4 separate regions of the Homo sapiens genome follow, and regions 2, 3 and 4 are each linked to region 1. Evidence: fine-mapped expression QTL. A gene starts in region 1. Each other region holds a variant in brackets. All regions are shown on one strand. Distances are between the middles of the regions.

Evidence for each region. PIP is the estimated chance that this variant, and not a neighbour inherited with it, causes the effect.
Region 2: its variant is the best candidate, but not a certain one, in a credible set for the expression of EFEMP1 in lung (TOPMed, PIP 0.52).
Region 3: its variant is the best candidate, but not a certain one, in a credible set for the expression of EFEMP1 in cerebral cortex (GTEx, PIP 0.79).
Region 4: its variant is the best candidate, but not a certain one, in a credible set for the expression of EFEMP1 in subcutaneous fat (GTEx, PIP 0.50).

The regions. Positions count from the first base shown.
Region 1 is chr2:55,920,914-55,929,150 of GRCh38, forward strand. EFEMP1 (EGF containing fibulin extracellular matrix protein 1) reads right to left here and starts at 2,869. Exons shown (of 12, transcript NM_001039348.3): 1 at 2,798-2,869; 2 at 1,986-2,026; 3 at 1,447-1,534. The coding sequence starts at 1,527. RefSeq lists an enhancer at 2,429-2,928.
Region 2 is chr2:55,998,183-56,006,419 of GRCh38, forward strand. All of the region lies in intron 2 of MIR217HG (MIR217 host gene), which reads right to left. MIR216B (microRNA 216b) reads right to left here and starts at 2,613; the gene lies at 2,532-2,613. The region is part of intron 3 of LOC105374690 (a long non-coding RNA gene); the gene reads left to right. The variant C/T (reference allele first, on the strand shown) is at 4,067.
Region 3 is chr2:55,885,451-55,893,687 of GRCh38, forward strand. All of the region lies in intron 5 of EFEMP1 (EGF containing fibulin extracellular matrix protein 1), which reads right to left. Among named protein-coding and RNA genes, the nearest start is that of EFEMP1, 34 kb to the right of the region's middle. The variant T/C (reference allele first, on the strand shown) is at 4,455.
Region 4 is chr2:55,875,689-55,883,925 of GRCh38, forward strand. EFEMP1 (EGF containing fibulin extracellular matrix protein 1) reads right to left here. Exons shown (of 12, transcript NM_001039348.3): 6 at 5,924-6,046; 7 at 2,058-2,177; 8 at 935-1,054. It overlaps LOC112268416 (a long non-coding RNA gene), which reads left to right. Exons shown (of 4, transcript XR_002959388.2): 4 at 1,929-1,997. Among named protein-coding and RNA genes, the nearest start is that of EFEMP1, 44 kb to the right of the region's middle. The variant C/T (reference allele first, on the strand shown) is at 4,105.

The sequences.
Region 1 (8,237 bases):
CTTAGCACAAAAGGGTAACATATCTGGAAAATTTGTTACAATAATAATGAACCCTAGTTAGTGGTCTTAAAACTATCATGTTTAAGCCACAGGGAACCTTCTCTGGTAAAAATGAGGAAGATTTAGGTGATTAGCAAAGGGAAGGGCATAGAAGATAAGCAACTGGAAAAGAAGTAAAATCTTTTATGAGATGATTATAAAAGTGGGTAGTGAATTTAATTTTAGCTCCCTGAGAAGGCAGTAAGTTTAGTCTGAATAACAAAACATTTTCATTTTAAGATAAACAGCACATGCCTTCATTTTTCTTGCTTAATTTATCTTCAGCAGAGGAAGCAACTGCATTTAACATGAAGTTAACAAAATATTTGTATTAAGCTATTTTATTTATAGTGGATCTGAACAACAGAAAGGAACATTTGCCAGATGAATACTAACATTCTAGGGATAATGTGGTACCAAAAAGTGAGATAATGTTTATTATCAGTAATTGACATTAGTTCATTTTTAAGAGTTTTCTTTTCAAAAATTTTTCACATTCTTTCGAGTAGGATTACTTAATTTTAAACTGGGAGCAGTAGAAAAATGTGCTTTTCATATTCCAATCCAGGACAAATGTCATTTGCCTAACACTGATTAAAGACAAGAAAACACAGAACAGAGGTGCAAACAAACTCACCAGAAGTGAAGTCAGTACTGTCCTTCTCTGTTCTCACCACAACTATTTGTAGCAGTGGGAGGGGTCAGGTGATCTTTTTAATATTTTATTAAACATTGGTTACACCTATGCAACTAACTAATCAAATATTACTTGGAAATATCAGAGACGCTAATTAGAAAATGCAAAACGGAGTTGCACACATTACGTTTTAAAACCACTTTAGCCAATATGCATCCTGGTAACACATAAACTGTTGTCTGCCTTTATTTATTAGAATTATCAAGTTATACAAAAAGAATGAATATATAGCCTTTATAAATTCAATAAAGGCCACTTACTTGAGAATGCATGTCATGTACACAAAGAAGGCCATGTGTCTTTATGGTGTTTAACGTTCTTACTTGACTTGAGTCTTATTCTGCACGTATTGGTTTTATCTGCATGTGGTAGGAGTCCAGGTTTTCCAGTTCCTTACACCCATTAATTTGTTGAATGTTTTGGAAACATGTAACTTTCTTTGGTTTTAGTTTTTGAACGGATCCCATTTTTAGCCCTGCACAAATGATTACATGTTGGTTCCTATCTTAGGTGGTGAGCCCAATGAACTTTTGAAAGGATCAAGGGGGCAATTTACAACGAATCTTAGATATGAAGCATGAATGAAGTGTTGTTTAATTTATCACCCTCAGCAGAGTATAGCCCAAATACACTGGCAGGGGTGTGTAAAGTCTTTTTTTGTCACAGAATCCCGCTGAACCGTACTTATTTCAAATTCCATCACCCCTTACCGTGTACGTGATGGTTTCTTCGGTGTCCTGTGACTTGACCAGCGCCAGAGTCAGCATAGTTAGGAAAAGGGCTTTCAACATTGTGAATCTCAAAGAAAATACAGGACAAACTAATGTTTAGTATCTGCTGCGGGGAAAGTAACAAAACTTTAGCAGTGAGCACAAGCGAGGAAAGGAGGGTGGGAGAGGCTGAGGCTCCACCATACTCAACTTCCAATCTGCTTTCTCATCTCCCCTCCCCCTCCTGAACCTTCTCGGTAGCCAACGAACGAGGCAGCAAAGACGTAAAAACTGCTGTAGAATTGCATTTCACGTTACTCCATCCTGCTACGCTGTTTACATACAAAAGACATTCAGCGTGCATTTTATACTGCACCTACAAAGCAGGCTGCAGAAAGAGGGGGTCGAAAGGAAAAAACAGTAATCCATTTCAAAGGGGACGGTGCATTTCCTGCCCCCCAGTCCCACACCCCGGGGGATGGAGGTGGGGCTGCAAAACTCTGTTCTCTAGAACGTTAAGGCTTTCCCAGTATACTCACCTTGAGCTAGCAGAGTTCCTTGCACAGCACAGCAAAAATACCTGTGAGCCAATATGAATTGCCTTGGCCTCAAGCTTTTTATTTTTTAAACAAAATAACAAAACAAAACTCGGAGAGCAATCTTCCAGTTCTAGTAGAATACTAGACCTTCTCACATGTCTCAGAGCTTCTCACATCCCCCAGCACAAACTCTCAAAGTGGCATTTCCACGCCTTTCTCTGCGCACAGCTTTGTTTAAAAGTCCCAGGTTGTGTGGAGGGGCAGCCCAAAGCGACTGATTCTCTTTTGTCTTATCAGTCTGGGTCCCCGACACGCTACCTTCGGTTTCAGGCTGCCTAGGACCGGAACCAGGGATCGCACCGCAGCCCAAGGTACCAGTTTCGGGCGGGCGGCCTGGCCCGGCAGGGAGATGAGGTCCCCTTTCTTAACAGCAAGCTAACGCGGCGGTCCCCTGGAGCTGCTCAGCGTCCCAGCTTCTAACCAGCTCCTATGGAATCCAGGTGCGGCTTAAATCTCGCACACTGGTCCCCTAAACTTTCAAAACCACGTTTATGGGCAAAGCCCTGCCGGCTGGTTGTCGGCGCGCACACACATGCCCATCCCAACAGATGTCACCCGAGTACTCGCACTTGCTGACAGATCGCATTCCGAGGCTGCACACCTCCACCTCCCTCTCTGCCCGAGACACCCTGCACAGTCCAGGGCAGTTCTCGGGTACTCAACACCCCTCAGCTCACCCCACCTCACTCTCCCGCGCGCGGCCCAGTGAGTACTGGGCTCGCTCGGGGCGACCCCCCGTTGGGGGCTCCTACCTGTGCGGCCGCGCTGCGCTCCGGGCCCGGGCAGCGAGGGGAGTGCGCAGGGGAGGGCAGCCCCGTGGGTCTGATCTGGCGAAGTCCGGCAGCGGCCGCGGCGGCAGGAGGAGGAGGAGAAAGGGAGGGAAAGGGGGAGGGCGAAGGGGGGCGGAGGAGAGAGCTGAGGGAGGCGCGAGCGCTGAGCCCAGCGTTGCGAGCCCGGCGGTAGAGCGCGCAGCGCAGCGAGGTCCGCGCCCCCTGCTCCAGGGGCCCTCTTTGCCGCCCCCGCTTGCCCTCCCTTGCCAGCTCCTCGTTTCCCAGACTCGCGGGGACCCCACGCCAGAGAGGACACGTTGACATGTGATGTCCTGGATGCGCTTCAGCCTTGGGGATGCTCCCACTCTCTAGTGCGTTTTCTTCTTCTCTGAGGAGGGGAACACAGCATCTCCCTCAGAGACCAGAGGGTTCTAGAAACTGCTGTTACTTTTTTTCCCAATAAGTGAATGCTAGGAGAGTAAATTAACCCCCATTCATAGAACTGTTTCCTTTACCTTTTCTTTCGGATTTTTTTTTTTTTTTGAGGAGGTGTCTGCTTCCACAAATGGAGAAAAATGAGAATTCATCCATTCAACAAATATTTGCCACCTACTGTGTGCTTAGTGTTGGGAATAGGCCAAATAGAACTTGCACTAACAAAATTGTGAGGTGGGGTTTGTTTTATGGTCTCTCAAACCTCCCTTTATGATAACAAGTGTTGGCAAGAATGGAGAAAAGGGAATGCTTGTATGCTGTTGGTGGAATGTAAATTAGTACAAACATGATGGAAAATTGTATGGAGGTTTCTCAAAAAACTGAAAGTAGAATTATCATATGATCCAGCAATCTCATTTCTGGGTATTTACTGGGAAGATTTGAAATCAGTGTGTTGAAGAGACGTCTGTACTTTCATGTTTATTGCAGCACTATTCACAATTGCCAAGATATGGAATCAACCTAAGTGTCCATCAAGGGATAAATGGATAAAGAAAATGTGGCATATATGTGTGTGTGTATACAAATATAATATATATTATATATATAAACACATATATATATAAAATATGTACACACATATATTTTAGATATATATGCGTTTTTAAGGCTAAATAGTATTCCATTGTGTGTGTGTGTGTGCGCGCGTGCATGTGTATATGAGCCCATTCTTCTGAAAAGTATCTTTCAAGCCAGGCAAAAATGGCAGTTCACTTGAATAATTTGTATGGTAAATAGAGAAGACTTACAGTTTGTTTTAGATATTTACTCCTAGACATTTAATGTTAGTGTACTATCAAGTAAGCCTAGACTGAGTTTAGCTTCACCACTTGGCTATGTAGCCCTAAGCAAGTTAGACACTCTCTTTGATCTTCAGTTCTACCATTAATAGAAGGAAGATGATGCCACTTACCTTACACATTGCTGCAAGGATCAAAGGAGATCGTGTCTCCACAGCGGGATACTCAAAAATAGTTATTATCTTGTCCTTTAACCATGAATTATTAGGCATACAAAATTTAAAAGAGAATAGTATTCCATTTTATGTGTCTGTGTGTATGTGTGGAATACTATTTAGCCTTAAAAAAGAAATTCTGTCATTTGTGACACCATGGATGGAAGTGGAAAACATTATGCACAGTGAAATAAGCCAAATGTAGAAACACAAATACCACATGTTCTCAAGTATCTGAAAGTAACTTAAAACAATTGAACTCATAGAAGCAGAGAGTAGAATGGTGGTTACCAGAGGCTAGGGTTGCAGGGAATGGAGAGATAACAGTCAAAGAGTGTAAGCCTCAATTAGATAGGATGAATAAGGGTTGGGTGCAGTGGCTCATGCCTGTAATCCCAGCACTTTGGGCAGCCAAGGTGGGCAGATCACCTGAGGTCAGGAGTTCAAGACCAGCCTGGCCAACATGGAGAAACCCCATCTCTACTAAAAATACAAAAATTAGACACGTGCCTGTAATCCCAGCTACTCGGGAGGCTGAGGCAGGATGATCGCTTGAACCCCGGAAGGCAGAGGTTGCAGTGAGCTGAGATCATCCCTCTGAGTGACAGAGTGAGACTCCATCTAAAAAAAAAAGAGAGGAAAAGTTTGATTTTTTTAAAGTTCAATTGCACGGTGTCGTGAATAAAGCTGATAATTGAGTACTGTATATTTCATTATCACTAAGAGAGTAAATTTCAAATGTTCTCATCACAAAAAATGTCAAATATTTGAGGTGATGGATATATTAATTAGCTTGGTTTAATTATTACACATTGTATTAAAAAATCATAACACCTTGTACCCTATTAATATATACAACTATAATTTGTCAATATATAATAAAAAGTCTCCCTTTTTATGGGTTTCTTTTTTCATCTATAGCTTCTCTTTTCTTCACTTATTGACTTAGTGAAATCTCCAATACTGCTCATTCAAAGTTGGGCATTTCACTTTCACCTTTCATAGTGGAATTTCAGGAATCTGGAGAGAAAAATCTTTTTTTCTGTTTTTATCAAATCATACCACACAAATTGCAGTTACCTCTGAAGGCTCCAACTCTAAAGTCATACTAATAGCTTGCTTCCAAGGCAGCTGTCTTCTAAGAAGCAAATGGCCAAATACAATTTCATGAATGAGAAAACTTACAAACTGAAGGGGTTAAAACTTTGACTCTGTCCTTGAGCAGGAGGCAGAGCTCAGGAGGAGAGGAAAAGCTCCTTTCCTTTCCTGCTGACTCAAGGTGGGAGGGTGGTAGCGACTGCAGGAGAGGGAGGTTATCAGGTGGAAGCTGCTCTCTTTATCTCTGGGGTATCCAGTGTGGGTTACCTAGACATTGCCAGTTTGGTAGCAAGCCACACAGTATTGGACAAGATCAGAGGGGAGGTGTACAACCCTCCCTAAACCTTACTTGAGTATACAGAGTTTTGGTAATTGTATCAAATATTTTTACTATCAAAATTCTAGTGTTTTCCCCCAAGTCATTAATGACCTCCAGATTTTTTTTAAATGGATCTTTACTTTTTGTACAGTAAGAAGATCTGTGCACATGGTTTTTCCTGTTTCTCTTAAACTCTTTCTACCTGTTCCCAGCCACTTTTCCAGAAAAATGGGGTGAAAACTCTCAAATTTATATCTCCAGCCTGGAACTGTTCCTATATATCCAGCTGCCAACTTGCTATCTTCATTTGGACATCTAATGGATGTTTCAAACTGAACACAACTGCTGTTATCATCCCCCAACCTACTCCACCCACCTTCACCATCTCAGTTAAAGCAGTTTCATCTTTCTATTTGCTCAGATTCAGGACCATGGAGTCATCCTTGATTTCTCTTTTTCTGAGATATCCTGCATTCTATCCTTCAGGAAATTCTGTTGGCTTCACCTTCATGATATATCCAGAATGGAACCACTTCTCATCACCTCTTTTGCAACCACTCTGGTCTAAGCCACCACCATTTTCCAACTGTATTATTGCAACATCCTCCTAATTGGTCTCCTTGTTTACAACCTTGTTCTCCTGCAGCCTTTTTGCAGTGGGAGTTCATATGAATGAAATCATAGAGTAAATACTCTTTCGGGTCTGACTTCCTTCACTCAGCATGTTGCTTGAGATGCATCCTTGTTATTAGGTGTATGAGAAACACATTCCTTTTTATTGCTGAGTAGTATTCCATTGTATGTATATACCCTGATTTGTTTGTTTACATCTTAATAGATACTTGGATTGTTTATGAATAAATCTGTTACGGACATTCACTTCTAAGTCTTTGCTGGGATATGTTTTCTTTTAGATAAACGCTTAGGAGTGAAATTGCTGTCATATGGTAGGGGTATGTTTAACAGTATAAGAAAGTGTCAAACTGTTTTATAAAGTGAGTGTGTTATTTTATGTTCTTACCAGCAATATGTGAGATTCAATTTGCCTGAAATCCTTGCCAACTTCTGGTATTGTCAGTAATTTACAATGTTAGCCATTCTGGTGGGTGTGTAAGTGGTATTTCACTGTGGTTTTATTTTACATTTCTCTGATGTCCAGTGATGTTGAATTTTGCTTTTCGTATGCTTATTGTCCATCAATATATTTTATTTCAAATTTGTGTTCATTTCTTTATTTTTTGGTCTTATTAGTTGTAAGAGTTTTTAAAAATAGTCTTCCTGCAAGTCCTCTTCAGATTTACATTTTTCGAACATTCTTTCTAGTCTTTGTCTTGTCTTTCCAATTTGTTAATGCTGTCTCTTGAGAGCAAACATTTTAAATTTTGATAATTTTTTTTTTTTTTTTTTGAAATGGAGTCTCCCTCTGTCACCCAGGCTGGAGTGCAGTGGCACTATCTTGGCTCAGTGCAACCTCCGCCTCCTGGGCTCAAGCAATTCTTCTGCCTCAGCCTCCTGAGTAGCTGGGAATACAGGCGCACACCACCACACCTGGCTAATTTTTGTATTTTTAGTGGAGACAGGATTTCACCATGTTGGGCAGGATGGTCTCGATCTCCTGACCTTGTGATCCACCTGCCTCGGCATCCCAAAGTGCTGGGATTACAGGCGGGAGCCACTGCACCCTGCTGGATGATTTATTTAATGGAGTCCAACTTTATGGATTCAAACTGGATGCATGGATTTAGCAGAATGCAAGTGGAAATTGCAGTAAATTCACCTTCCTAAAATTGCTCTGAGCTCAGAGGAATCTGAGATTTTAAAGATTTGGGCTGGGCACGGTGGTTCACACTTGTAATCCCAGCATTTTGGGAGGCTGAGGCAGGTGATTCACTTAAGGCCAGGAGTTCAAAACCAGCCTGGTCAACACAGCAAAACCCCTTCTCTACTAAAAATACAAAAATTAGCTGGGCATGGTGGTGCGCGCCTGTAATTCCAGCTACTCAGGAGGTTGCAGTGAGCCAAGATCACGCCACTGCACTCCAGCCTGGGTGACGGAGCAAGACTGTTTCAAAAAAAAAAAAGGAAGATTTGAAGATGTATGTGGTGACAAACTCATAATTTTAGAAGAGATTCACAGATGTTGATGATCACACACTGAGCACTATGATCTATGTCTCTGTATCCTTTGGAATGTGTGTCTTAATCAAACATGTACTATCAGTGTGGCTGAGTCTTAAGAGTGCTTAATCAAAGTGTAGAGTAACTGTGTTCAACGGGGACCCACAGTGGGCATCCCTGGCATGCTAGAGACCAAGATATGAATCACAGAATTAGCCCACAGTTTCTGGCCATGTATCCAAACCAGGCAACATTTGGGTCCACTTGATTTGTGAAAGTATATTCTCCTAGGAAACTGCTGAAGGAGAAGCCAAGGCTGGAACCAGAATTGATGGAAAAAACCCTCTCCTTCTTACAGAAAGAATTCATTTAAAAACACTAGTATTCTTACTGAATTGATAAAAATGGATCATTCACTACTGATAGCCCTATAATGG
Region 2 (8,237 bases), 77 kb after region 1:
AACTATTGATACATGCAACAGCTTGGATGGATGTCAAAAGAATTAAGCTGAGTAAAAAAATTCAATCTCAAAAGGTTACCTACTATATGATTAAATTTATAAACATTCTAAAAATGACAAAATTATAGAGATAGTAAACAGATTAGTGGTTGCCAGGAGTTAGGGATGGGGCATCAAGAGGGTAAAGAGATAGGTGTAACTAGAGAGGGGTAACACCGGGATATTTGTGGTGATGAAATAATTGTGTATCTTGACTATGGCAGTTGTTACACAAATCTACATGTGGCAAGTTGCACAGAACTATACACATGTACACACATGAGTGCTTGTACACTGGTGAAATCTGAATAAGATCTATGGGTTGTATAAATGTCAATTTCCTGGTTTAGATATTTTACTATAGTTATGTAAGATGTTCCGTTGGGGGAAATTGAGTGAAGGTACATAGAACCCCTGTATTATTATTTTTTAACTGCTTGTAAGTCTATACATTTTTCAAAATAAAAATTTGAAAAAACAAAAACAAACAACATAAAACCTAAGTTTCCTGACTTGTAGTTCCATGCTTGTTCCTCTGTGCTATTTTGTCTGAGATGTAGAATTATGCACATTTAGGTAATTTATTTCCTTCCAATTTATGTCTTTTTGAACTTCAATTTCTTTGTTAGGAGAAAAAAAGGACTATAAAATAGGAGTGCCAATAATACCTTCTTCACTGGGTTTGTGAGAAAACTAAGTTAAATAATATGTGTAGAGTGCTTCATGCAATAGTGACTATTGGTCGTTGTTATCAAATACTTAAAACACTCCTACTGCCTGGGAGGATGCTAAATTCCTAGCAATGTTTTTATTGTTTCCTTTAATGAAACCTCATGTTTTGAAATATTTTGTGTAACAAATTGCATATATGGTTAATAATTTTTTTCTTTTGTTACTATCAAAGGCATTTTAGACTGTTAGTTGGAGCTTCTGATTAGCAATTGCATCAATATTGAGTTGAATTAAATCCAATGAAAGCAAAGAAACCTGATATTTGGAGAGCCTTCTTATCCTCATCTAAGGAAATGTATTTCTTTCAGGTCACCTGAAGTGGTGAAGTGTCTAAAACATCTTGTTGATCTCCAGCACTGAGTTTACAGACTCTAGACATAGTTGGGCTCCACTTTTCAATGAACAAGCCAAACCTTATTATTATAATCTGAGTGAGTTGACATTTTGTGTGTGATCTAATTCAATTTTTGAATGTTACAATTTTTTCCATCACATCATGGGAAATTGGTGTGGTCCAGAAATAATCCAAATGAATTCACTAAGAATGAAACTGAAGATGAATTTTTAACATGCTACCAGAAGTTATTGATTAACAGGCATACCAATGTTTCAGATACTAACAGATACATAACATTATTATAAATATATAAAAATCAAATTATGGCTTTTATTCATTGTCATTGAAGACCAATTTCAATAATAATTTTTAATACTTTTTATTTTTTGTTTTACCTTTTAGTCATGACATTTTTATTATATTAGAGGAGAAGGGAAAATAATTTTTTTAGTATATAGAAATTGGATTGCTTACAGACAAATTAAACTTAGGAGGGAAAATTATAAAGGATGTTGAAAACTATAAATTTAAACAAACATCTCTTATTTTGACAGGATATGTTTCAGAGAGAACAAATCTTGAGTCTTTCAAATATTACTGGGCCAGACTAAAATAATTTCATTGTGAGAGCATTTTCCTTCTCTGTGTGCAGTCTAAGTGCATATTTTGTGCTCTTAGGAATAACTTTCCAAAGCTGTGCGAAGAATGTAGCAATAAAATCTAATAAGAATTATGGCTCATGACTTGAATGATGTCAGTACCCTTTTAATCCTCCCAAACATGAAAACGTTTTCTCCTCTTAAATAAGATTTCTTAACTCCTTATTTCTAAGGAAATAAGTACATCTGAGCAATTCTATTGGCAAAGTAAGAGTTAAATGAAAATGTTTCTTTCCATTATTATTAATGCTTATACTTATTAAGACCACTACTTTAGAAATGTATTCTAGACAATATTTTTATGAATACATATTATTTTGTCTGATTATTTTAGTGTTCCAGTTATAATCTTTTGCTCTCTCTAAGCCAGTGGTTCTCAAACTTGAGCATGAATCGGAATTACCTGGAAAGCTTGTTGAAACACAGATTGCAGGGCCCATTCTGAGTTTCTGATTCAGGAGGCCTCTAGTGGGGTGCAAGAATTTGCATTTCTAACAGGTTCCTAGGTGACGCTGCTGATGCTAGTCTGGGAATCAAACTTTGACAACAACTGCTTTAAGCCATGTTACAAACAACCTTCTTATTTTAAAATTTAATTTAGTGGGATTCAACCATCACGAGGCATGTAGTCACCTTGGTTTAGAAGAAGTTAAAGTTCAGTAAGTGGGCTATAGCTTGGCTTTTTGGCCATGCTAGATTTATTCCAGGCCAAAGAACTGCTTATAACAAAAGCATAGTTGATGAAATGGTTCGATGCTTGAAGATGTCAGACTGTAGAATCTCTACGGGTAAGTGTGTGATTTCCTCAGTGACATCACATTTGCCTGCAGAGATTTTCCAGTCTGCCACTTTGAAGTTGTACTTAAGATAGAAAAAAGTTGTCGTCATTCTACAGTGATCTTTCTGGTCTTGCTAAATTTTAAAACTATATTTATTCAAGATTAAAATTGATGGGAAGTAGGAGTTATAGCTGGGATTCAGATAGGTGCATAAATGAGAATGGATACTCTCTAATTTTGCCACACATCTCCATAGAGAATGAAGGAAAAGATGAAAAGTGAAGTTTCCCAAGCCACAACCAGTGGATGAGACTAGTATACCTTGGTCATGGAAGAAAGACGAGGCTTCTTATGCCATCATTCATTTTTTTTTCTCAAATTATGCTGTTTGTTTCATATGTGCTTATTTTACCAGTGTGTTAGTCACACCAAAAGCCTTATGGTCAATCCAGGTAAATATCCTTGCATTTCAAGCAATTTTATCTAACGTTAGACTTTGCAGTTGAGTTTCTTAGTCTTTTGTAATTTAGTTATGCCTAAGTAATAACAAGATTAGATGAGTAGAATGAGGAGATGTGCTTTTTACTTTTATTCTCTCCATCTTTCTTCTGCCTAATAATGGTCTTATGATAATACCATCACCTGCTGCTAATCTTTAAAGTGCTGGAATAATGCATGATATGCAATATTTACTTTAGAGCTCAAAAATCTAACTTGTGAATATTGTGATATTATTAACACTACAATGTCGGGTTTTGGGTCAATGTCAACTATAAATTTATTCCAACATTTTCCTAGAACAGGGACTTCATATATTTTGTTCTCTTCTATATCCCAGCACATGGAATAATTCCTGGCCTATAGGAGGTGCTCAGTAAACATTTATTAATGATTGGCTATTACTTAGGATGTTTTTTGCAAATACTTGTTTACCATTAGAAAGGAAATATATATATATATATTCACATATTTTATTGATATTACAGTGACATTTAATTTCAGACAAGATAAAATGAGAGAATATTTAAATATGTAAATCTTGGTAATAAAGAATCCTCCTACAATAAAATGCATTATAATACAATTTTTTGTAATACTTGGTTTAGGAGTAGATTAATAACTTCCTTAAAGTATAACAATGTTATATTATGTTTTTCAGGCATGTAGTTGAATTTCAGATGATGAGTTTTTTAGTCCGGGTTACGTCCAAATTTATGTAATAATGAATCACAAAATTAGGGTTGATTATGTTTACACTACACAACACAGTGTCTTGATTATCTGTTAATCTGCTATACACACATCCTTGGACCTCAAGATGACTTTAAAAGCGTCCTCTCAATTGCATTCTGACTTTCCTAAATAAACCATAAATAGAAACTTAACAGTAAATCTCTCATAAGTGTGCAGAGGATATAACAGGTGGCTCTGATCTGATGTAAGTGTAGCTAAAATAATGTGTTGAAATAATTGCAGCTTAGAAAGATAGAAAACATCTGGGCTTCAAGGGAGAACACTTC[C/T]ATCCTTTTTGCTGCTTTTAAAAATAGAGAACTACATCATTCTGGGTTGCATAGAAAGAAGGGGCTGTGTTAGAAACTCTATGATCCTCAGTCTGTTCATCTAAAGCTCCAAAGGATGAGACTACTATACCTTGGTTGTGGAAGAAACACTAGACTTCTTAGGCCATCATTCATTTTCTTTTCTCAAATTATTATTTTTGTTTATTTGTGCTTGCAGGGCCTGATTAACAGTGTCACTTGTTCTCTTGAAGGAAAACTGAAGTTGTGAATGATGGAATTATAGTTGCCATTTCTCCAATTGTTGATATCTTGTTTGTTCCTTTGCTCCATGGGAAGGCATGGATGGAACAGAGCTTTGAGACAGAATCCTCATTTTAGTTGCCTCTATGAGTAGGCTGTTTAGAGGCTGCCAGCCTATAATATGGGGCTCTTGTTAGTTTAAGTACTTAGGTAGAAAAAGACCCTTCTATAAATGCAAATTTTTAATATCTAAGCATTATCTGCCACCAACATTAGTACAGATGAATTTATAAGATTATTTCTAGCAGACAGTAAAGACCTGAAAAAAAAATTGAACAGTACAGTTACATCTTAAAAGATCAGAGGTCAAGATCTACCCAGTGATTCTCAACGCTGGCTGTATATCAGAAACATTTTGGATTTATGGAGAAGACAGATTTCCAAGCCCCAACCAAGACCTACCTCCTGAACCTGAACTTACAAGATGTGGACTGGAGAAGTCTCTTTTTTAAGAAAAAAATTAGTAAACTTTATTTTTTAGGGCAGTTTTAGATTCACGCAAAATTGAGTGGAAAGTATAGAGAGTTCCTATATACCCTATCCCCATCCATGTACAATCTCCCCTGCTAACGACATCCCCCACCATAGTGATAACGTTTGTTATGATAGATGAACCTACATTGACACATCATTACCACCCTCAAATCCAGTTTACATTAGAGTTCATTCCTGGTGTTCTCTGTGTTTTGACAAATGTATAATGATATGTATCTACCACTGCAGTATCATGCAGAATAGCTTCAGTGCCCTAAAAATCCTCTGCCTATTCATCTCTTCCTCCCCTCTAACTCATGCCACCCACTGAGGTTTTTACTGTTTCCATAGTTTTTGCCTTCTCCTGAATATCATATTGTTGGAATCATACAGCATTTAGCCTTTCCAGATTGACTTCTTAACTTGGTAATATACATTTACATTTCCTCCATGTCTTTTCATGGCTTGCTGGCTCATTTCTTTTTAGTGCTGAATAATATTCCTTTGTCTGGATGTATCACAGTTTATTTATCCATTCACCTACTGAAAGACATTTTGGTTTCTTCCAAGTGTTGGCAATTATGAATTAAGCTGCTGTAAACATCCATGTGCAGGTTTTTGTGAGGACGTAAGTTTTCAGCTCCTTTGGGTAAATACCTAGGAGCGTGATTGCTGGATTGTAAGGTAAAAGTATGTTTAGTTTTTAAAGAAACTGATGAACGGTCTTCCAAAGTGGCTGTACCATTTTACATTCCCTTCAGCAATGACTGAGAGTTCCTGTTGTTCCACATCCTCATCAGCATTTGGTGCTGTCAGTGTTCTGGATTTTAGCCACTCTCTTAGGTGTTTAGTGGTACCTCATTTTAATTTTCAGTTCCCTAATGACATACAATATCAAAAATCTTTCATATGCTACTTATTATATCTTCTTTGGTGATATGTCTATTCAGGTATATTGCCCATTTTTAGATTGGGTTCATTTTATTATTGTTCAGTTTTAAGTGTTCTTTGTGTATTTTAGATAACAATTCTTTATCAGATTTTTTTTTGCAAATATTTTCTCCCAGTCTGTGGCTTATCTACTCACTATCTCTTAACATAATCTTTTGCAGAGCAGAAGTTTTACATTTTAATGAAGCCCACCTTATCAATTATTTCTTTCATAGGTCGTGCCTTTGGGGTTATATCTAAAAAGTCAATGTCATGCCGAAGGTCATCTAAGTTTTCTCTTGTGTTATCTTCCAGGAGTTTTATAGTTTTGCATTTTGTATTTAGGCCTATGAACCACTATGAGTAACTTTTGTGAAGGATATAAGATTTGTGTCGAGATTATTATTATTATTTTTTGCATGTGGATGTCCAGTTGCTCCAGCACTATTTCTTGAAAAGACTCTTTGCTCCATTGTATTGCCTTTGCTCCTTTGTCAAAGATCAGCTAACCATGCTTGTGTGGGTCTATATCTAGGCCTTCTATTATGTTCCATTAATCTATTCACCTATTCTTTCATCAGTACTACACTGGCTTGACTGCCGTAGTGATACAGTAAGTCTTGAAGTCAGGTTGTGTCAGTCCTCCAATTTTATTCTCCTTGAATAATGAGTTGGTATTCTGGATCTTTTACCTCTACACATAAACATTAGAATTGGTTTGTCAATATACACAAAATCACTTTCTGGGATTTTGATTGGGACTTCTTTGAATCTATAGTTCAAATTAAGAAGAACTGACATCTTGACAATATAGTTTTCTTACTCAGGAACATGGGCTATCTCTCTATTTATTTAGTTCTTCCTCCATATCTTTCATCAGGGTTTTGTAGTTTTTCATATAGATCTTGTACATCTTTTGTTAGATTTATAGTTAAGTATTTCATTTTTGGGGTGTTAATATAAATGGCAATGTGTTGTTAATTTCAAATTTCATTGTTCATTGCTGGTATATAGGAAAGTGATTGACTTTTATATATTAACCTTATATCTTGCAACCGTGCTATAATTGCTTATTTCCCGGAGTTTTTTTGTTGATTATTTTGGGCTTTCTATATATATGGTCATGTCATTTGCAAACAAAGACAGTTTTATTTCTTCTTTCCCAATCTGTATATTTTCTATTTTCTTTTCTTGTTCTATTGCATTAGCTGTAACTGCCAGTATGGTGTGAAAAATCAGTGGAGAGAAGAGACATTCTTGTCTTATTCTTGATCTTAGTGGGAAAGCTTTGAGTTTCTCACCATTAAGTATGATGTTTGCTGTAGTTTTTTTGGTAGATATTCTTTATAAGTTGAGGAAGTTCCTTTCTATTCCTAGTTTGCTGAGATTCTTTTTTTTTTTTTTACCATAAATAGGCATTGCTTTTGTCAAATACTTTTTCTGCATCCATTGATATGATAATGTGATTTTTCTTCTTTAGTTTTCTGATACGCTAGATTACATTAATTAATTTTCAAATGTTGAACCATCCTCGCATACCTGGGATAAATCACATTTAGTCATGGTGTATAATTCTTTTTATACATTGTTGAATTTGACTTGCTAATATTTTGTAGAGGATTTCTGCATCCTTTTTCATGAGAGGCATTGGTCTGAAGTCTTTTTTTGTAAAGCCTTTGTCTGACTTTGGTATTAGGGTAATGCTGGCCTCATGGAATGAGTGAGGAAGTATTCCCTCTGTTTTTATTTTCTAAAAGAGACTGTAGAAAACTAATATAATTTGTTCTTTAAATGTTTGGTAGAATTCATGGGCAAGCTTATCTGGGGCTTGTGCTTTCTGTGTTGGAAGGTTATTAATTATTGATCTAATTTAACTAATAGATATAGGCCATTCACATTGTCCATTTCTGTTTGTGTGACTTTTGGCAAGCTGTGTCTAGGAATTGGTCCATTTAATCCAGATTATCAAATCTGTGGGCATAGAGTTGTCCGTAATATTCCTTTATTATCCTTTTAATGCCCGTGGTATATGTATGATGTCCTCTACTTCATTTCTGATATTAGTGCTTATCATTGAGATATTAGTCTTATCTTTTTTTCTTATTTAACCTGGCTAGAGATTTATCACTTTTATTATCTTTTCAGAGAACCAGCATTTGGTTTTGTTGGATGTTTCTATTGATTTCCTGTTTTCAATTTCATTAATTTCTGCTTTAATTTTTATTTTTTTCTGCTTTCCTTGGATTTAATTTTTTTTCCTAGTTCCCTAAAGTGGAAGCTTAGGTTATTTATTTCAGATCTTTCTTCTTTCATAATATATGCATTCAATGCTATAAGCTTCCCTCTAAATGTTGCTTTCATTGCATTCCACAAATTTTGATAAACTGTATATTTTCAATTTCTCTTGAGATTTATTCTTCGACCCATATGTTATTTAAAAGTTTGTTAGTCTCTAAGTTTTTTGAGC
Region 3 (8,237 bases), 35 kb before region 1:
TCTCTGAACTATGTAGACAGAGCCTAATGTTAACATTACCAAAGAACAAAATAATAGATTGTGCTTCCTAAAATACCATAACACATTTCGTCATTCTAATACATTAACAATAGCTAATGGCAATATTTGGTGATTCCCTCATTTTTCAAAAATGTGCCCACGTGCTCCCTCCTAGTGATTTATACTATTGTAGGTCCCTCTCTTGCTGACTTTGGCACCGTTAGTTGCTTTAAATAACACAGGCTAATCTTTGCTCAGCTCTTCTAGCCTCTTTATCACACCGACCCCCACGTCTAGGGAACCGCACATTTGATTTTCTCTCAAAGTTAATGGAGACAACTTTGTCCACATCTCTGTGGTGTCCATTAAGTCCCTGCTTAGGCCCTCATTCTCTATGTTTTTGGCTCCTTCCCTTCAGTCTGACTCATATTTCCCAAACCCCTGACTCATGCTGCTTTCTCTCTCTTATGCAACATTTTAATCTCTGCAATGTTCTTTCCATAATTTGATAACTTACCACAACATGGAGTCCCTTTAGCATGTTTTCATGGGCAAAAATTATCTGCACCTTGAATGGTGTTGAGTACCATTTAGACTTTTATAATTTGTGCTGCTTTTGGTTTAAGAAATAATTTAGAACTACTTTTGAATAAGCCACTGTAGACTAGTGATGAGAATGCACTAGTAATAGGACAAAGAAGACTGAAATTATTTTGAATCTGTCACTCCCTGTGTGATCTAGGGTCATGGTATCAATTTTTTCTCTTTGTTTCTCCATCTCTGAAATAGAGAGTCTATCCTCAACAATAACACACAGATTTTTAAAAGTATTCAGATTCTTCACAATATACTTTTTTTGTTTCCAGACTGTAAACCCCTGGAGTAAAATAACCGTATCTTTACTAGTTCTGTGTGGGGCACTGTGCATGCTTTGCAAATATTATTTAATGGTGCTATCCTGTGAACTCTTGTGGTTAAAGAAAAGATAGTGGTTAAATTCAAGTTGGTGATACTTCTTGATCTGTGTGGATTTAAAACCTTATTATACCTAGCTTCCTCAATCAAACTGATTTAATCTCATAAATGGAGTAAAGTAGAAAAATGGTCAAGGTAAAGGATTCATGTTTGTTAGAAGGAAGAGCTTCTTTACCATTGGCCTCCTTCCTCCCAACATTCTTAATGATTTAGATACCCACCTGCTCAAAATGATTGCTCCCAATCCTTTCTAGAGACAGGGTGATAAACTAGTTCCTACCAAAGTACTCTTTTTACTTACTCTCTGAAACTTTTTAAATAAAAGGGACTCACTGAGTGAAGGTCTTAGAGGTATTTGGAGTATTTTGTTTTTCAATATAATCCTGGAAGGTAAGAATTACTTCAGCAAGACCTGAGGGCACTGAAGTTTACTACTGTTTTACTCATCCAGTATTTGCTATTGATAATGATAACCTGAGTAATTAATATAATAAATTATGTAGATTGAAATCTGATTTAGAAAAAAGTATATAATATTTTATACAGATTCATATACAAACTTGGTAACATTCTAAAATTAATTGGTATAAAAATAGGTAAATTCTTAGCAATATAAAAAGATCTATTATTTGATTGGGAAGGCAGAATTACAAAGCTTCTTATTTAATCCTAATAGCCCTGTGGAAGAGGTAGTTACTTCATCCACAGTTTACAGATGAAGAAAAAAAAGGATGTCACTGAAATGTAGACTCAGTTGAGGGAACTTGCCCAGGGTCACACAGAGCAGAGATTCAAACACCAGATTTCCATTTTGTTTCTGCAATTTAGGTCCTGAGGAAGACTTATTTCCTATGAGTTCTGGAGAGTAGTTTTAAGTGAATTTATAGGTGTTTTTAATTTTTTTTAGCCTTAAAGATAGGGTTGTTAATGTCACAGCACCTTGATTCCTCCCTTGCGTCTTTCTTCTACTTAGAATAACATTCATAGCTCTCCAAGTTTTCTGTTTCCCTCCCCAGTTTTTAGCCAATTATCAACATTTTTTTGTCAAAGACTTTCTAGTTCCCTTGCTGTTTCTTTCATAGTACTGGAATCAGATTTATCTGGGCCAAATGCCCAGTTCTAGTTAGCTTTTCACCCTTCTGAAATTATCAGCTAGAATTCACTCAAGCTAAGCAGTTCTAGTGGAGAAAATAAATACTAATATTAAGTAACAAGAGAGAACTGTCTTAATCGATGGCCAGCAGTAGATTTATAGTTCTAGATTCTTATCAGTTCTGGCAAAACAGATTGTTAATAATTTGGTGTGCTTTAAATGATAAACAAAAATATCACCAAAATCAACAAATTATCAGCCTCCCTGATAGTTCATTTCTTTGTTTTAGAGAGTGGCGAAATCAAGTGTCCTAGAAGCCCTTGGCATTGCATTGTGTTCTATCAGAACTTTACAATATGCTGTTCTCATAGGAAAAAAATCATGCTACTTCGAATTGCTTTTCTAGCAATGATGACGGATTTGCATTGCAAATGGACCCCCCTCACGTAGCTTCCTCTGTGGACAACAGTGTTCATTTGCCAGATGATTGGATGAGGTTAGGCATACAGTTCATGAACATGGGGAAGAAAACCAACTAATGCATGTGAACGACCAATCTGTGACTCATCTGTACTACACATAAACCAGATGAACCAATGGGTCATAGGCTGAAACAGAGGAAGAGCAAAGAAACAAAGGCTTTACTTCTCATTCTTCAGCTGTTTTTGCCCACTGGCAACATGAAGCTTATGCTTTCAGAATCTCAAGGAAACAACATTGTCTACTGTTAAATGATTGTTAATTGTTAGGAGTATTTTCTGGCATCTTTGTGAGTATGTCATACCCAGCTAAACTCTTTTTTTTTCCTTCTTAAACTTTTTTTTTTTTTTTTTTTTTGAGATGGAGTCTTGCACTGTTGCCTGGGCTAGCATTTAGTGGTGCAATCTTGGCTCACTGAAACCTCCACCTCCCAGATTCCAGCGATTCTCCTGACTCAGCCTCCTGAGTAGCTGGGATTACAGGCGCCCACCACCATGCCTGGCTAATTTTTTGTATTTTTAGTAGAGGCAGGGTTTCACTATGTTGGCCAGGCTGGTCTCAAACGCCTGACCTTGTGATTCACCCACCTTGGCCTCCCAAAGTGCTGGGATTACAGGCCTTCTTAAACTTAATTATTAATTTAGAAAATGTTTGGGAAAAGAAAACCCTGATATTTGGGATATTAACAACCATTCATCAGTCTGCTACCTTGTGGAGGTAAACCTGTATTTTGAAACAAACAGCAACATCAGTCTTTGCTCCAGAGTGGCTCAGTACTAGAAATTAAAGACCCTTTGTGTGAAGGTTTAAGCCCATGCCACACAGGCTGGAGACCTGCTTCAAAGTGGATGGCCTTGGGAGGAATTAAGATCCCGCCCTATTATGGGATGCCTCTGCACTGACATTTCAATTGTGTTTTCCTGGTTCCCGGCCACTTGATCTCTCCTCTCCTCTATCTCCCACTTCCCCGGCTCCGGCTCAAACACTGGTGAGTGATGAACTGAATGGAGACTGACTACATTCAACTGAGTCTACCAAGCCCTGCCTGAGCACTGTGATTTGATTCTTGGCCTCCCTCCCTGAGGCCTTGCAGCCAGATTAGTCAAGTCTCTGGAGCCCAAAGCACACACATTCCTGGCTTATTCCTTCAGGCAAATCATCACTTGAGGTCGCATAAGCCCCTGACTATGGCAGTGCCAATTATAACAAGCATGGCTTGCTGACCTCCTAATTGTATGAAACCAATTACATTATGCTTGTTGTTCATTCAACAATAAGCAGCTTTTGTGCCCACTAAATTGAGGCATACTACTAAATTTGGTGAGTGTAACTTGGCAATACTTCTCCAACTCATTAACTGCCTAAAGCTTTTTCAATAAAGAATACCTTTGTGCCTCTTGCCTTCAGAGAATGTTACTTTCTTGTGTGTATTTTCCTGCCCATTTCATTATATCTTACTTATGATCTTTCTGCGCAATGTTTCTCCATATGCCTCAGGGCCCTTATTTGCACTAAATTCTTTTTTCTGTTCTCTTTTTGATTCAAAATTCCAGCACAATAAAAAGAATAAAGATGTGGATAAATCTAAATAAGTACTGACTGCCTAAAACAATAATAGTAAAGTATTTTGGGATTTATAAAATATTTAGAATTAAAATACATGAGAATAATAGCATATATAGTTTGGCAGGAAGAGGAATAGAGTTTAAATATTTTAAGGTCCTTGAATCACGCAGGAAGAGTTAAAAGTACTAATTGATCTTAAATTTTGATAAGTCATGGATGCATGTTCAAATGATCTGTAGGAAAAACAATAAAGGAATGGTAAAAAAAAAAAATAAAACTACAAAGCTAATAGAGGGGAAAATAGAATAATACAAAATACTCCATCAATTTAGGAAGAAGG[T/C]AAGAAAACAAAAGGAAACTAAAATGTGCAGGACAAATGAAAAGCAAATAGAATGGTAGGTAGTTTTAAACCTAAACATATCAGTGGTTATAGTAAATGTAAATGGACTAAATGCACTCACTAAAAACCAAAAATTGTCAAATTGATTAAAAAACAAAACCCAAATATACTGTTTCAAGAGACATAATTTAAATACAAGGACACAGAGATTAAAATAAAAAAGATGGAAAATATTTATGCAAACACTAACCAAAACAAAGTTGGCTATGCAATATTAGTATTAGAAGAGGTTGACTTTATGGAAAAAAAAGATTATTAGAGAATTAAAAAAATACTACATAATGATAAAAGTTTCAGTTTACCAGGAATATGTAGAAATTCTAAATTTAAATGCACTTAATCATATAGGCTCAGTATAGACAAATAAAAAAATGAATGAAACTAAAAGGAAAAATTGACAAGCACAGTTACAGTAAGATTTTAACACACTTCTCCTGGTAATTGAAAGAATAAATACATGTTTTCAGAAATGAATAGAAAATGTGATTAAAACCTTTGAACTAATTGACATGTATAGAGCACAGTACAGAATACATAGCCTTTTTAAATACTGAGGGAACATTAAAAGAAAATGGCTATATGCTGGCATTAAAGTAAGTCTAAATAAATTTCAAAAATTTGCAATATACAGATTATGTTCTCCAACTACAATGCAAATAAGATAGAAACAACAACAACAACAAAACTAGAAAAAGCCCTTCTTTTGGAAAATTAGACATACTTCACAACAACCCATGGTTTAAAGATAGCTAAATTGAAATTTGAGAAATCTCAAACTGAATGAAAATGAAAATATTACAGATCAAAATTTATGGAAAAAAATGCCAGCCCATAAGAAGGCCCATAGCCCTACCCTACCTCCTCATATCATCCTTATCTTTTTCTTTGTACTCAATTTACAAGAGAAGAAAACATAGATGAGATCTATATCTGAGATCATCTTCAGGGTTATGAAAGGGAGCTTAGGGAAGGAGGAAAAGATCTTTTTATTTTAACTTTTATTTTAGGTTTGGGGGTACATGTGCAGGTTTGTTATATAGGTAAATTTGTGTCACTGGGGGTTGTTGTACAGATTATTTTGTCAGTCAGGTGCTAACCCTAGTACTCAATAGTTATTTTTTCTGCTCTTCTCCCTGGGAAGAGGAAAAGATCTTGACCATGTATTTCCAAAAAGCAGAAATAGAATAAATGGCTAGAAATGCAAGAAAGGCAGATTTTCGCTCAGTGTAAGAGAAAATGTGGTTATTATTTGTTTTGATGTATTAGGAGATAATGAGTTTCCTATCACTGGAAATACACAAACGATTCAATGTGGATCCCAGCAGGAGGTGGGGGATTTGACTAGTCATCTGTGTTTAAAAACAGTGTTAACATGCTACATGCAAATATGACAGAGTTTTAATAATTTTTGAATCTGAACGGTGGGTGTTCCTTGTTAATTGTACTGTACAGTCAACTTTTCTCTAAGCTTGACAATGTTGATGATTAAAAATTGAAAAACAGATGCTGCATCCACTCTAATATAGAAAATTGTGAGGATTCAACAACATTGAATATCTATACTTTCTCTCATTTGACACATGGTGCACATACGTATAGCTTTGTATAGCTGTGAAGTTAACTTTTATACCTTTACAATCTATCTCCCAACATCTGAAATACTTGCCTCATGATGAAGTGTAGCAAGAAAAGGTTTCATTGTAAGTGGTTATTTATTCCTTCTCTCTTCCTTGAGCAGGAAAACAGTTACGAAATTTTAGACTCATTATTTCTTGTCCTGTATTAAGGATTTTTCAGGAAGGAAGACTCAGTCTTCATCATGTTAAGGCATAAGATTATTCCGTGATCAAAATGTTAAACTTGTGCCCAAATCCTTCAGATAACATTAAATCAAGTGAGATCTGACTTCCTGGTTTTGTTCCAAATTGATACCATAGTTACCATTTCCTCCAAGTTATCCATAAATTATCATGCATTCTTGGACTTAATTTGTTGATAAATTATGATGACATAGGCTGTGGGATTTTCCTCCCTCTATGTTAAAACACTTTCAGTGTTGTGAAGCAACAGCATTCAAATAACTCCTGAATATTAGCTCAAGGAGTGCCTAAAGGCCATAAGGGACAAAAGAAAATCTGTTCAAAAAAACTTCTGACCCTGTGAGTGTTGCAATTCTAAAGGCTTCTCAAAGCTAGCATATAAAATAGTCTTTGGACTTTAAAATGAGTCTGGGGCATTTTACTTTACATTTCCATTGGGGACAGAAATAAGTTTCTCAGAAAATACATTCTCTGAGATCTGTTTCATTTTTATGAATCTGACATTAAAGCCTACTTTGATAAATTCCAAAATGCTGTTTTTAAAAGTATTTGTTTTCTAGCTCTAATCTCTTCTCCCCTCTCTAACTTGGATCTTGGGAAACCTGAGTAACATGCTTTTGCTTTCTTGGGGCCATGGTCATGGATCTCCATTTCTTCTTGCGTCCTTTTTCAATTTTCAGTGGTGACTTCTCTGTCCCTCTAATCTGTAGGATCAAAGGAGAGTCTGAAAATGGACTCATCTTTCTGGATAGGATTAAATGGCTCTGTTAGAAGAGTGGGATGAATAGAAAGTTCTCTTCAATGTTTAAATACACTACTGTGTTCCTATAAAGTTACATACTTGTCAAGAATTTAGAGTAGCTTAATGTCTGTTTGGCAGTGCAAATTCTGAAAAAGAAAATCTGGTGGAGAAACATGCCCTATACATGGTTTGTGTGTCTGCAGAGTACAAAGGCAGGTAGACCCAAGCCAGTTATGCAGTTGATGTGTTAAAGGTTGATGCCAAACTAAGTCAATCTTAAAGAGAATTTCTTGGCATGAATAAACGGATGAAAAAAACCAAACTCTACGTTCTTAGATCTGTTATATATACTTAAAATGGTTACTGTATGGAGCACATCCACGGAGTCTATCATATTCCAAGTTTTCATTTTGAAAGAAAATGGAAAAATTGAGCAATTCAGATTGTTAATTTTAAAATTAGCCTAGGATTATTTTTTCCCCTAGAAATGTAATAATTTGTTTATAGAAACTTTTAAGTGAAAACCTTTGGCTTCAGGCACATATGTGGTTAATGTGGATGACTGTGAGGCTGCCAGATAGGTGTAAGGGGGTACCCTGTCAGTGACCTTCAATTACGAATCTCTTTTCATGAGTTTCAGAATTAGAGGAATCATACTATTCTCTAACAGCTAGTATTTTTAAGTTCTAAGTTATTTTATTTGAGATTGTATCTTTCTGTAGTTGCTTATGCTAGCTTTTTTTTACTAGCCTTATTATACCAAGAATTAATGTTTATATATAATTTATTATACCAAGAATTAGGAGTTCAGGGGAGGACTTGTTGATCTTTTTAGAAAGTCTGAGAATCACAGAATAACTCTTTCTCTTAAACAACTCACTGACAGAAATATGCTTGAGACAGAAGGGTGGGTAAGATCACAGGTTTTAGAGTCAAATAGGTCTCAGTTCAAATCCAAGCAACATCACGTTTTAGTTATGTGTCCTGGGAAAGTTATTTGACTTTTCTACTCTTCCAAATCTCACTGCCACATCTATGAAGTCGGGGAATGTTCAGTTCAAAATGATACTGTGAGGACAATTAAAACAATACACACTCAAAATGGAGGTACCTGGTCCACAGTAAGTGCTCAATAAATTATACTTAACAGTGTGAAGACTT
Region 4 (8,237 bases), 45 kb before region 1:
GTCTTCTCAGAAATTGGGTGACTTTGAAGCCAAGTTCATTTGAGCTTTGAATGCCAAGTCCCCTAACCTGTGCAAGCTTCCAGAATGACAGCTTGGCAGGATCTGACTTTCAGGGGAAGAATGCTTTGCATTTCTGAATAGTGATGTCCCTACAGTTTACTCAGAAGGGCAGAGGCAGCTGTCCTGAGGTAGCCTCTTTCAGTTTTGAGTGTAATGGCATGATGTGAGGCCTCTCTCGGTGGGGTTTGAGCTTTGTGTAAAGCTGAGTGAACCGTGAGGAGGTCAGGGACATCAAGTGTCTGTGGCATCCCCCTCAGGATGTCTAATGCCTTTTGAATTATATAACGAAATGTGCACATGCAATGGACCCTGAAGGTCATGAATCTAGTTAAATGGCCCTCCTCTTGTTCATGTGGAAAGTGAAACCCAGGCAACTCAAGAAATGTGCCCAAGTCACACAGTAGCAGGAATAGAACCAGAAACCAGATCTCCTGATTTTTATTTTAATGTTTTGACATGCACTTGGCTATTCTGAAACTTAAATGTGCACACCAGTCACCTGCAGTTTTTGTTGAATGTAGATTCAGACTCAGGAGGTCTGGGTTGCAGCCTGAGATTCTGCATTTCTCATAAGCTCCCAGGAGGTGCTGACATACCTGGTCACTGGATAACACACTGAGACGCAACATGCTAGAGCACCCTTTCTAATTATTAGAGCCAGCCTGCACCTAATATTTCAGTTATTTTTATTTCTTTTCCTTTTTCTTGGTAACACACTAAAAAGGCAATGTAACAACTGAACTACATTAACTGGATTTTAGAACAGAATTCCCATGGGTAAGCGTTTGTTTTCATAAATGGGTACATAATCAGATAAAACAACAGCAGTCACAGGAATTGGACTTTATTCCATACTATCTGGGAAGAGTTTTACCTTCACAGTTGAGCCTGTCACTGCTTAGCTCATATCCTTGATTGCACTGACAGATGAATGAACCAAGAATGTTGTAGCACTGCTGAGCACATTGATTGCTGGCATCACATTCATTTATATCTGAAAAAAAGTTTTATATATATATATATGTATATGTATATATATACACACACATATATATATAGACTTTAAACATATCCTTACTCTTTTGTACCTACGTCATCTGCTGACAAGTGAGTAATTCCCTAGCTGAATTATTTGCCCTGCAGAAGCTCACTGGAGAACATCCATTTAGGTTTCATATTTGTTGGAACAACTACAAACGTCTGTCATATACTTCTTTTGGAAATACCGAAATATTTTTTCTAGGAATGACAGTTAGTTTGATGTTTGATGAATCTTTCCAAAGGAATTTAATGCTTCTAATAAATATACACTCCGGTATCGATTTTCTTTTGTTGTTCAGATACAAAATGCCAATTCTATAAATAATTGATATAAGACACTTATACTGATATGGTCTCTCAGCATGCTGTACTGAAGATTTATCTGTGCTATTTATTACTTTTTAAATGGGTTCTGTTAAATTCCATTACAATTATAACATAAGCCTTTGAGACCCATACGGAGTTTTGCAATGCTCTAAAGCACTGAAAATATTGTGAAAAGGCATTTTTCCTACACTAGATTTTTTCCATGTCATGCCAATCTTTTAATTGTGTGCCGTGACATTGCATTCTGAAAGGGGAGAAGAGGCATGTAAAAATCAGATGCACTTTCAGTGGAAAGTTTATATACTTGAACTTGTAGTAACCCCTTTGGCACTTTCAGCATTATATCACACACTGCTGATTGACTGGTGTATGTATATCAATTGATTTGTAGTTTTAAATTTGTTGATCTATCCACAGAGGAGAACTAAAACCAAAGTTAAAAAGTTTTCTGTTCACATCTTGATGTGTTTTAAGACACAGATTGGTTATTATCTTTTAAGCTTTATGATTGCTGAAGGGAAGTCGATGGAAACTATTTACTCAAGAACATAGAAAACTGGAAATACTGCAACATGGCATGGGGTTTCCTTTTGTGAAGACAGAAATCAGCAAGTTCTCAAAAGGCTTACCTACGCAGGTATAGTTGTTTGCTGCCAATTGAAACCCAGGACTGCACTGGCAATAAAATGAGCCTGGTGTATTCACGCATCTTTGGTGGCAATATGGAGGGATGGTACATTCATCTATGTCTAGGTTATCAGGCACACACACAAAGAGAACCAAATTATTGAATTAGCATTCTCTGAAAAGCATTATCTAGAAAACCTATGTAGAGAAAATCTCTTTTTAAAAGTAATAATTTCCTATTTTGTTAAAATTAGGGTATATGTATTTTAAATATACTTTGTATTCTGAGTTAAGAAGTTAAGAACAAAGACTCAATGTTCATGCCATTCAGTGGTAAATAAACTTGGTGGGTGGATTGAGATTTAAAGAAAACAAAATAATTGAGACTATTGCATATATATATAAGATGTCAGTTTGGGGAGCTAAAAGCTTATATATAATTACAGAAGTAAAAAAGAACTACTGAAGTGCATGGTGCAGCACAAAACAAAGAAGAAAGAGTTGTGGGCTGTGCTCAACTGGTGACCTTGGCTAAGTCACTTACGCCTTCAGTATCTTGGTTTTTCTTCTATAAGATGTGGATAGCAAGGCTTGCCATGTGTATCTTAGGACGTTTTTGTGTATCAAATAAAAGAACACTGTGGAAGAATTGGATGCTAAATAAGTTACCTCTTGAGAGTGCTCTTTTGACACTTTGATGAAGTGTTCCAGCCTGTGTCCTTCTCATATAAATATTTTCAACTATAAAATGCTCAACTAAGAACTTGCTAAGTAGGACTAACATCTTAGAAGCATAATAAAATTTCATTAATTCATGATTCTACACTTTGTGACAACTTCAACATGGCATGTGTAATTTAAAACAACCATTATGCATATACAATGTAATGCTATATAGTGACACTGCCTTGTGGTAAAACAAAACAAAACAAAACAAACCTTTATGCTGGGCTCTTTTGGTACTTTAATAACTAAAATTAAGTAGTGTGCTCAAGTGGCCTCAGGATAACCTGAGTCTGAATCTTTGTTCTGGCAATTACTAGCTTGGTCTTAACTTCTCGAGCTTGCATTTCCTCTTCTGTGAGTAGAATTATTGGGAGGGTTACAAGACATAATGTAGGCAAAGTTACTGGCACAAAGCAAGTAAACATAAATGGGAGCTAATAAGCTGCAAGATATATTTGATTTAACTTGAATACTGAAATAAATAGTAAGAAGATATTCACATGGCTTTTCCCCTTACTTTGGTTCAGGTGTCCATTCAAATGTCACCTCCTCAGGGTGGCCACCTTTCCCACCAATATCAAATAGGTTCTTCTGCCCTATCTATTCCCTTACCTTGCTTTAGACTTCTTTGTAGTCCTTAACAGTACTCGACATTGTGTTATGTGTTTATTTGCTTCTTGTGTGTTCCCTCACTATAGTGCATGACATTCTCCCCTTGAGGTGGAGGTAGAGGGTTTTTTGTCTGTTCATTGTTAGATCTGGAATAGGGCCTGGCATAGTAGTAGGTGTTCAATAAACATTATTCGAATAAATCGAAACTTCACACTAATTAAGAGCAATTTTAGCATAGTGCTTCCTAGTCCTCAGTACTATCATCAGGTGCTAGTATTGATAGCTAATTTGTATGAATGGTATTATACTTTCTAATAGCTCCACGAGGGCTATGAATTTGTAAAATTTGTTTACTATTATCCCAGTTCCTAGAACAATGCTTGTTACACAGTAAGCCCTCAATAACTATTTGGTGAATATGTGACGCATGTCTTCTTAACTAATAAACATTCATTGAACCATTCTTATTTGCTGGTACTGTGTTTGGCACCCCAAGTTTATAATGATAATCAGTATACATGTGTTCTGCCTTGTCTGGTATGAAAGACAGGCATGAAACAAATTATTCCATGGAATGAGAAGATCAACAATAGAAAGGAGTGTATGGGACACAGGGAGCACCATGCTACTTGAAGTGTGGCCTGCTGACTGCTGCTGGTTCATGGGCTATTTGGACCAGTCTGCAATGAATAAATACAGAAACTGAGAGTA[C/T]ATGTTTAGAAATAGCAATTTGACATTAGTGCAACATTATTTTTATTGTGCTTTACAGAAGTATTGGTCTGCCGTAGATTGGAAATTTACAAAAAAGTATCCTTCATCATAATTTGAGAAGTACTGGCACAGGGGAGGAGCAACTAATTATATTTGGGTAAATCATAGCAGGCTTCCCAGAGGAAGTGATCCTAAGCTAGGATTTGACAGTGAAATAAGAATTTGCCAGGAGGGAATGTTTTTGTTGTGTAAAGAGCTTGTATAGAGGCACCAAAGTGTAAGTAACACTGTGTGACGTGTGTGGGGAACTGGTGGAATAAAGCTGGGGTGTAATATTTTGTGGTGGGGGAGAGGTGTTTATGCAACAGAACTGGACAATGATCAGATTGAGCAAGACCTTTCATGCTCTGTCGAGGAATGTAGACTTGATTCTCTCAGTGAGGGAAGCAGGAGGGGAAGACACATGATTAGATCTGAGTTTAGGAATATTTCCTCCTACCACATTAAAAGGGCTGTGACCGTATGTTCCATTATCTTTGATTCACCCCACACTAAGTTGGATTAGTTCTTTTTTCTGTACTTTTTATGCCCTCAAATATTTATTTTCCTGTCTAATACAATGGCCAAACTTTGTTATCTCTGGAGTTTTCTACACACTCTTCTTTTAAATCACAGCTTCATTTATAGCAAACCCTGGGCCTTCCTCAGAGGCTGGGCACTAACCCCAGCATCTAGGCACAGCCCTATGGCAGACAGAACTGGGCTGGGGCCCACATGGAACTCAGTGTTGACATGTGAACATCAACAGCTCACATTCTCAGGCGAAAACTGACGCTGGTTGTCTGTCCCCACATCCTCACCCTCTGTTCCTAAGAGGAAATAAGGCTTTTTCACTGATCTGTGGTAAGAAGGGGTATGTAAATAAATGGACAGTCAGAGTTTCATGCCTAGTGCTGGGCCTCATGATTGAGCCCAGAGTACTGTATTTTACTTCACTATCTGCCAGTTGGCTTCCTCATACTTTGATCTTCCATTCACTCAAAACACACGCATAGAGCCTCCATCACATGGTGGGCACACTTCAGGGACTGGGGAGACCACAGTGACACAAGATGACCTGGTCTTGCTGTCAGGGAGCTCACGCTCTTAGGCCCTCCAGCAGAGGCACGTGCTGAACTTGGCTTTGTACTCATGGTACCCTACAAAGGCTTGCAGTATAAAGAGCCTTTAATACCCATCTGTTGACTCAGAATACAACGATAGCAAACAGCTTTACTGCACAGGGACAGGCACTATTCTAAGCATTCCCTACATGAGCTCTGGAGGTAGGGCCTAGTATCATCTCCACAGTACAAGTGAACATAGTGAGACACAGGATTTAAGTAACTTGCTCAAGGTCTCAAAGCGAGCTGGGGTTGGTGCTTGGAATGCAACTCCACCATTTGCTCTATGTGCTGTGCTATGCTATGCTCTGCAGCAGTGAATGGTGAATGAAGCCCACAGTACCAGTGTGTTAGCGCGATGGCCCCCAAAACAGCAAATTTAAATTTTTTTGTGGTTGTTTTTATTGTCCCATTCATACCCCAAATTTCTGCTCTTGCTTCGTCTAACATTTAACCAACACTTTGTTATCCAGAATAGCTCAACCTTTAAGGTTGTTTCTTGTTATTGTGGAAAATGGATTGGTAGTCTATAAAAAAATAAGGAATTATTGGCTACCACTCTCCAAAGAAACATGAATGCTTTGATTGGAATGCTTGAGGTTGAAACAGTTAAGGTACTCAAGACAGGACCGTGCTCACTGCACTGTGGTACTTACCTACGCACTGCTCCCCTCGCTTCTGATATCCAGGAGGGCACTGACATGCAAAGGATCCCCGTAAATTGATGCACACTTGGTCTGCTCTACAGTTGTGCGTCCCTGCAGTGCACTCGTCTATGTCTGTCAGAGACATGCAACACAGAAAGAATTGTCAGTTGTGAAGATGTTGATATTTCCTCCATTTTGCCACTTCTTAAGCTAAATTTTTACTTTATTCTTAAAAGTTTATAATGTTCTTGCATTGGAAATGTTTAAAATTATAAATTATTTCAAGTGTTCAGAAAATAATTTTGCAAATACCAGTGAGTACTGCTCAGATTTAACAAATGCTAACATTTTGTCATGTTGGTCTTGGCTCATTTTGTTTTGTTAAGAAACATTTCAGATACAGCTAAAGCCTCACACCATCCTCATCCCTTGACCCATCAGCTACCACTGTCTCGGTAGGAATGAATCCTTCCCTGAGATGTTTTTGTACTTTTGTTAGACAGGGATGCATCCATTAGAACATATGGTATTGTTTTGTATGTTAAAAATTTTAATAGATTGTATGATACTTGCTTTTCCATCCAATATATTGTATTTGAGATAATTTCCATTGACAAATTTCTAAAAATCTAACCAATAACTGGGTGTAATCAACCTTTAATATTATACGTTCCCTGTAGCTGTTTGTTTTTGCAAACAGCAGGGCAACATGTATGTATAAATCTTTCATTGCAAATTTCAGAATGCAAAGGATTCAATTTGATCATATTCCTCTAGCCTGTGTAGTTTAAAAATCCATATTTTCTCAAAGCAGTGTACTTCTTGGAATAATTTACTAAATGTGCCTTAATGAGTATGCAGGTTACAGTTCTAGAAAAGTAAAAAATGCTCAGTGATAGCATAATGAACTAGTTATAAGAAATTTCTTTCAGATCAAAAGGTGATATAAATTTGTGTGTGTACATTCATATTTACAGTAATTTATAAGTAAAATCTAATTTTGCCTTATCTGTATCACTTTTATATTCATTCGGCTCTCCTATATCATGAAGTTAAGTAGTACACAAAAAAGGATCATATAATTTCATCATTCTTCAACAACCACTCTAAGCTTCATTAACAATATCATAAAACTTGTGATTCCTAGATGACAATTTTTGTATAAAAACCAAAATACTACCCTGGGTCTACCACAGTGATGATTTAAGACCCCTGAGGCAGATTTCAGAGGTCTTAGATCATCACTGTGGCAGACTCATGGTAGTATGTTGGAAGAAAAAGTAGGGAAAGAATCAATAATAAAAAATTCACCCAATTTCTGTCTTCCCTCTAAGAATCTCTGAGAGTAGACCCTGAGGTTGGTTTGCCTTTCACTTTTCTGTATTTTCAAGGAGGACTGCGCATTTACACTATGCAGTATAATAATATATGAAGTTGAGATTGTAAAAGGGTTGTCCTCAGAAATCAGCTTCACTTAGCTGGGTGTGGAAATGATAAGAGAGATTCTTTCGATAAGAAAGAGGGAGGGGAGATGAAAAATACTTGAGTGATGTATGGCTATTTATTGGATAATAATCTATAAAGCATCCACTTACGTAATTCTTTGAACTTGGTTTTAAAGTTTTGGCTAAGGTTTTTGTTATTTTGTTTTGTTTTGAAATTTATTATAATTACTACTAGTATTATTTTCAAGTCAGTGATTACAAACTGTCCTTTTTAGGTACTATGCGATGGTGCAACAATCCTGCTTTGAAATTATCTGCTGTTTTTTGTGTCTTTTATTATTTTCTCAGATGCACTTGATGAAAACCTTTTTACTGGGGTTTCTTCAGAGCTTTATGACTCGTTAATGCAGAAATGACAGCAGAGTATCTATTGTTTTATGTCAAGAACATTTGCCAGCATTTGCAGTGATAACAGTCCTGAGAGATACGGCAATGTTAGATTCAGATGTGGCAAGTTTCCTCTGGCAGCAGATCAAGGCCCTGGGCTGGCTGCTGCATTTTCTAAGGGAGGCCTCAGCAGTGACTGAGGCTTTTCTTTTTGACATCTATCTGCAAACTGCCTCCACCCCGCTGCATTCCTACAACTGATGCCCTATGACTTCCTTCCTACTTTCTTGTTGCTCATTTCTTAGTGTCTGATAAATAGGCTAACATTTCCAGTGGAATTAATGTATCATTAAGTAGATTTTAAACACAAAAACCTGTGCTACTCCTTCTTAAGAATGAGGTCTGTTTACCTTCTGAGTGGGTTATTTAATAAAAATATTAGGTGAGTTAAATTAATAAAAACAAACAACAACAAAAAACAAATACCACTG